Linked DNA regions of Homo sapiens. The protein of the gene in region 2 interacts with the protein of the main gene of each other region in a pairwise test. Each region holds a gene or a part of one and is shown on either strand. Other genes may lie near its edges.

Region 1 (3,500 bases), on a different chromosome or scaffold from region 2:
CCGCCTGTCTTGATCTCGTTCTCCCGAAGGTCCAGTCTCAGGAGGCGGGGGCTCTCAGCGATGAACTCCGCCACCGCCACCGCGCCTGGGGGGGCACCGCAGGGGCTGGCCACGGGCCCCACACCCGGCTGGCCGCCCGGCTGAGCCCACCAGCCCGCACCCTGGCCCGGCCCCGTACCCTACCCTCGCACGTGAGCTTGGTGGAGGCCAGCCCGAGGCGCAGCACGCTGCGGTTGCTGATGAGCCCGTTCTTGAGGTGCCGCACACCCTCGTTCCCGATGGGGTTGTGGCCCAGGTTCAGCGTCTCCAGGCTCTGAGTGTGCGGCTGGAGGGAGGGGGTGTGAGGGTGAGGAGGAGGCCGTGATGGCGGAGGAGACCCAGGAGGCCAAGTCAGGAAAGAAGCCGGGAAGAGAGCCAGGCCCGGGCGCTCCTTTTCTTTCGCGCGCCTGCGTGAACACCGGCGCCGTCCTGCCCTGCCGCAGGCCTGGCCTGAAGTCCCTCCTGTGCCTGAAGTCTCCCCAAATGCCAGGTCCCCCGTCCACTCCCAGCTCCCCAGGCACCCAGTCAGTCCCTACCCCCCACAGCCTGGGCCCCTGGCCAGGGCCTGGACCTTGAGCGCCCTGAAGCCCCCAAGGAGGGCAACTCTTATCCCGGGGTTTGAGCACACGAGTGCTCGCCCTGAGAGTCTCTGTACCTGAGTGGCTTGCTTTAAGCACCACATAAAAACTGAAAACCAGGCACGGTGACTCACTCATAATCCCAATACTTTCGGAGGCCGAGGTGGGGGGGATCACTCGAGGTCAGGAGTTCAAGACCGGCCTGGCCAACATGGTGAAACCCCGTCTGTACTAAAAATACAAAAATTAGGCCGGGCGCGGTGGCTCACGCGTGTAATCCCAGCACTTTGGGAGGCCGAGGAGGGTGGATCACAAGGTCAGATTGCGACCATCCTGGCTAACATGGTGAAATCCCCTCTCTACTAAAAAAATACAAAAAAATTAGCTGGGTGTGGTGGTGGGTGCCTGTAGTTCCAACTACTCGGGAGGCTGAGGCAGGACAATGGTGTGAACCCAGGAGGTGGGGCTTGCAGTGAGCGGAGATCGAGCCACTGCACTCCAGCCTGGGCGATTGAGGCTCCGTCTCAAAAAAAATAAAAATAAAAAATAAAAAAATTGGCTAGGCGGGGTGGCGGGCACCTGTAGTCCCAGCTACTTGGGAGGCTGAGGCAGAAGAATGGCTTGAACCCAGGAGGCGGGGGCTGGAGTGGCTGCAGTGAGCCTAGATGGCGCCACTGCACTCCAGCCTGGGTGACAGGATGAGACTCGGTCTCAAAAAAAAAAAGGAGATAATGAAAGAAGGGCTCCTCCTCAGGGAAAACAGGCACAGAAGCTGAATGAGGAAGCAGGTGGGGCTGAGTTTAAATCGTCTTGAACCTGCAGGATGGGCAGGACAGGAGCCGTCAGCTAGAGGCAACTGTGCTGAGAGCTGGAGTGGGAGGTGGCAGCGGGGACCGAGGTGCCTCCCTTCCCTGCCAGCCTGACTCACCAGTGTCATGCCCAGGAAGGCCATGCCTGTGTGCGTGAGCTGGTTGTTCCACAGCACCAGGGTCACCAGCCCCTTCCTCTGCTCCTTGAGGCCCTCGCAGATGTAGGCCAGACCTGGAGGAGGCCGGCAGTCAGAGCCCTGTCTGGGGTCCGGGTGCTTCCTGGGGAGGGGACTGCAGGGTAGGAGCAACCCCCTCTGCTTAGGACCTCCATGGAGGCCCCGCAGTCCCAGGCCTTGCCCTGCAGCCCTGCCTCGGCCTGGCACCCCTGGGCACACATCTGTGACCCCTGGGCCTGGGTGCCTGGATGACAGCCTCCACCAGATGCTTCTGATCTTTGCTCAAATGTGACCACCTCTGGCCCACCTCACCTCACAGCCAGCTCACTCCCACCCACAGTCACCACTGTCTCCCTCCAATGCAGATCCCACCATCTGACAGGCTGGAGATTTCACTCATCTTATCGTTGTCTCTCTAGACTGGAGTACAAACTCCCAAGGGCAGAGCCCTGTGTCTCCCTCCGAGCTGAGCCCAGGGGCCGACAGCCATGGCCCTTGGCAGGTGCTCAGTAGAGTGGGGTCTGGGCCTGCCACCTGGGGACACAGTGACCCACCCCACCCCTCCAGGATGCAACAGGAACGCCTCCTTTGACGGCTCCCCATTCTCTGCTCAACCCCCAGCATCAAACACCAGAGCTCCTCCCACTGCACTCACTGCTCCCGCGGTCTGGACCCTTTCCCAGGCTTCTCACAAGGCTGGTTCTGCTCCCAGCCTCCGGATGGAAGCCCAGAGGCCCCGCCCCACGGTGGTCTTCCCTCCTCTCCCATCTGAAAGCAGCCTCTAGCTGACCCTGTTATGGCAGCAACACTGCTTTCTTTTCAGATTGTAATTATTCACTTCGCCTCATCCTGCGGCTGTCAGCTGAGCTGTCTCCTCCTCCTGGAAGCCCTCCCTGGCCCCCAGACTGATCGGACCCCGCCTCTGGGCTCCACCAGCCCAGTCCTGCCCACTCTAGGTTGTCACTGTCTAGGGCGGGTCTGTCTTCCTCCTGGGAGCCCCAGCAGGACAGCGTTGGGGTGGTCTTGGCCATGTCTGTGTCCCCAGCACCACCTAGCGCAGGGCCGGGCAGAGTGGGTGCTGGGTGACGGGTGTGGGTGGGGTGGGCCACTGCACCCACCCGAGTCTAGCACGTGGTTGTTCCGGAGGTCCAGGATCTGCAGGGAGCAGTTGAACTTGAGCAGGTTACCCAGCTGGGCCGAGTCCTGCAGGCCGTTGAGCTTGTTGTCCGCCAGGTACAGCTCCCGCAGGTTCATGTTCATCTTCAGGGCCGTGGCTGGGGACGGGGAGGGGGCACGGTGACTGGGCAGGCCCCTGCCCCCCAACAGGCTGCACATCCTGCTCACCCTCCCGGGCTTGGGGCTCACCGAGCAGCATGAGGGGCCGCCCCGACAGGCTGGCGTTCTCCAAGTGCAGCACTGCCAGGCTGCTGCGGATGCGCAGGGCACGGGCCACGAAGGGCGCCGAGTGGTCCAGCAGGGGCGTGTTGCGGGCGTCCAGATACTGCAGGCAGCTCGTCTGCAGGGGCAAGAGGACAGGGGTGAGGCACTGGCTCAGGCCTGCCCCAGCACTCCCTGGCCCCAGGACCGCCCCAGCACTCCCTGGCCCCAGGACCTGTGCCCCCATGTCTCAATGAGCAACGAAGCCACAGCTGTCGTCTGGCTATGTCGCCTTGTTTTACAATGGGGGTAACTGTGGCTGGGGAGGGAAGGCTCAGCCTGGGGTCCTGTGGGTGAGCGAGGCAGGGCTGGTGGCAGCCAGGATCTCCAACTCCTGTGTGGCTGGGAGGTTACCAGATAGCCCCGTCCCGTCCCTCCACCCAGCCTTCACACAGGAGTGACGTGGGGATGGCGACCATGGCCACCTCCAAGGGGATGACATTACAGAAGGATGACATTAC
Region 2 (3,500 bases):
TATAATTTTAAAGTTGTAACATTACAATTTTGCTACAATTTTGAATGTAAATAATTGTACCACTACAATCACTAAGTTATCCTGAAGTATTTCATGGTTTTGCTCTGGTGAATTTTTCTATAGTATTCCTAAATAATGCATATTACAGGATTTAAGGTATATAAAGTATAATAAAACATATAATTGGAACAAAACCATGGAACTTACCTTGCTGGCCTGTGAGACAATGTGAGCGCTGGAAGTCTCTAAACTGCTCCATTTTATGGTGGTCAGGTGAACAGGTGCTGGAGGGAACCCACTGTAAGAGCAATGTCCAAATGTCCCATTTTATTCTAAGGACAATAGAAGATACTTGCTTACCTATGAGAGAAACAGAATAAGATAGGTTTACCAAGGAAAAGGCATTAAATTTAAACAGTGCAAAAGAGGCTGTGGCAAGGGAAAGATAAGACATGGGAATGGAGAAAAGAGGTAGAGAGATTTTCTTTGTGAAGCTGAAGAAAAGCCAGCCAGCCCACCAATACCCTCGAACGCATCCAATTCGAATATATCCTCCCATCCCTGCTCCTCTGTGCTTCCCCACCCCAAACGCCACACCCAGAGAGTATTCTAAAAGTTTTCATGTGTGCACAGTTCTTTGTTTTTGAAATAATGTGCTTAATATCAAAACTATTTTCAATAGAACTCATATAATTTTTAATATGAACTCTTAAACACAGCTACCAAATTTTTTTTGCAAGGCTGTCCTCAGGGCTCCTTTTTTGTGTGAACTAGCATGAGTGTGTTTCGAGTGAGTTTTTGAGGTGTTGTTATTTGAGATGAACAGCTCTGACAATAGGGAGGCCTGCTGTGCCCACTCATTGTGTGTGTGTGTGCATGCGGGCTCCCGCACCGCGCCACAGCACGCACGTTACAGTATGGAAGCCTGGATAATTAGATAAAGTCAGACCCCCAGATTTAGGTTGTGATAATTAGTGGGTACGTTTTCCTTAGGCACAGCTTCATCATAATTGCACATGCTTCAAAATCCTGCCAAGATACTTTCTTTTTTCTCTCCACCTCTTTATGATTTTTTTTTTTTTTTTTGGTTTGTTTGGAGTATGTCATTCTTTTCTTTCATGCTCAGGAGAACTTCCAGTGGTGAATTCATCAGCTGGATCAAACTGCTGTACTTGTAACTGCCAGTCAACGTTGCAGGCCATTCTACAAGAACTCAAGACCATGAGGAAATTAATGCAAATTCAAGCAGGTACAAGGATCAGGCCTCGGAATGAGTCCTTTGATTTTTAATGCATATCTGACATCTTCCGTTGGAATGTTCATTGTGCTTTTATTAAAGCCTTCTTCTCACCTTGCTGTCTTGCTGTGCCTTTTCAAGTATCTGTTTTTTCAGCTTTCTCTACAATCCATTTTTCCTTTAGCAAATCAAACATATTTTGTCTTGCTACTGATACAGCTCATATAATTATGTGTATGTACTCGATAGACTTCATTCCATGATCTCCTAGTACTTCACAAATGTCAGTTAATTAAATTTGGGAACAACTGTGTATGGAGGGGTCCTTTAGGAAGCATGGGCTTCAGTGTTCAAGCACTAAGCAGATAAGAAATGTGGAGCCCCAGGCTATGCTTTGTGGCTTTTCTCTCTCCTATTCAGGATGCGGAAGCTCAGAAATCCGCCGTGTTCTGTCGTCTTTGTTTATGTGACTCCTTTTTGTTTTCACTGCCATCAGGCAAGTTGAGGGACGGAAGAGCAGTGGATTTGTAATTTGGGATTGGATGCCAATTTCTGCTTTTGGAGCTGTGTGGCGCATCTGAGCTTCCTATTTCACGTCTGTAAATGGAGAATTCATATCTAACTCACAGGGCTGTTGTCAAAATAGAATGATGTAGTAGCTGTCAATGAACTTTATAAGGCATGGTACAAGCCTAAGCTGTTTCATTAGTGTGGTCTTAAAGTCCATGAAGCGTTCTATAGAAGTCTGGAAGTCTACGTCTTCATTATAGCAGCTGTATTTTCTGATCTTCACAATTGAGGGAAAACAGAATTGTTTTTGTCACAGGTACAAGAAATAAATCATTGTATTAAGTTTTCCCTCTTGTCAAGGGACATCACCACTTGATCTAAGCCATGTCGTGACTGGCTTTCCTGCCCTTTCATCAGGATGGTAGTCCGGAAGGTCGTCACTCAGAAGCTGTTCAGGATGCCATTTAGTGAATTCTAGTATAATTTTAATATTCAGTGATGTGGTTTTGATATAAAAAGCTTAATTAATACTTAGATATATCAGTCACCCAAGATCACATTAAAGTAATGTGAGCTACTTTCTGAAAAACAGCATCTTTTTATTTGAGATGGAGTTTCACTCTTGTTGCCCAGGCTGGAGTGCAATGGCATGATCTCGGCTCACCGAAACCTCTACCTCCCAGGTTCAAGCGATTCTCCTGCCTCAGCCTCCCTAGTAGCTGGGATTACAGGCATGTGCCACCACGCCTGGCTAATTTTTGTATTTTTAGTAGAGATGGGGTTTCTCCATGTTGGTCAGGCTGGTCTCAAACTCCCGACCTCAGGTGATCTGCCCGCCTCAGCCTCCCAAAGTGCTGGGATTACAGGCGTGAGCCACCGCGCCGGGCTAAACAGCATCTTTTTAAGCACTGAATTTGGTTTTACCCCAAGGAAGTATTTTGCTCAGGTCAGTAAGCATTGGACTCACCTTGTTCCACTACGATAATCTGTGTTCTTATTAACCTGGAGGAGGTTAACATCTCCTAAATAAGGAGCTCAGAAAGAAAGGTTACTTTATGATGTTCGGATTCTTTTCTCCGAGGAGGAATTTGTTAGCACTTAAGAAAATATGCATATGAAATTGTAATGATTTGTTTTGTCACTTAAGCTCCTTACTACTGAAATGGCAAACTACAAATTGCAACCATTTAAATCCTTGACGGAAGCCTTTTTAGAATCTATTAAGTAAATGCCACTTTGTCGCTATGTTTTCTTTTCTGAACCTTTGCAGATTAGGGAGGTAAACGATTCCAAAGCTGTAGGATGGCACAAAGGATAAACTGAATAAATTACTCTCCTTTAATTTTCTTAAACTTAAAAATTTGTGTCATGTGGGTAGATTTACTTAAGGTTTAATGCCTGAAGACTTAGATTTAAATTACATTTAGAAAGTTTCACCTTTCTTTTAAGAAGACAGGGAATAAGACCTAGAGGTAAGATCTGGATGCCAGAGACTTGGGCTGTGTCTAGATTTGCAAAAGGAGAAGAAAAACTCAGATAGTCCCCGTGTTCCTTAAACCAAAACATTTTCATTTCTAATTGAGAATCATGAGGCTTAGCAAGGCCTGGGGCCTAGACCATCGTGATCATTATTCGAGGTCCCTTTGATTCTGAGGGTGCAGACCCAGCCTTGAGGGGGAATGCAGAGAGACCAAAGAGAAGTTCCCAACTCTGGCTGCACAGCAGAATCACTGGAAGAGCTTTCAGACAATGC

What was found.
Region 1: the proteins of BEND7 (region 2) and PPP1R37 interact in binary tests that used the Homo sapiens proteins (3 or more experiments, as listed by UniProt).

Annotation. Positions count from the first base shown.
Region 1 is NC_000019.10:45,141,679-45,145,178, reverse strand, and holds part of PPP1R37 (protein phosphatase 1 regulatory subunit 37), read right to left. Parts: intron 3,119-3,500; coding exon 2,968-3,118; intron 2,877-2,967; coding exon 2,721-2,876; intron 1,659-2,720; coding exon 1,546-1,658; intron 326-1,545; coding exon 184-325; intron 86-183; coding exon 1-85. UniProt on the Homo sapiens protein: Inhibits phosphatase activity of protein phosphatase 1 (PP1) complexes.
Region 2 is NC_000010.11:13,494,515-13,498,014, reverse strand, and holds part of BEND7 (BEN domain-containing protein 7), read left to right. Parts: intron 1-1,126; coding exon 1,127-1,249; intron 1,250-3,500.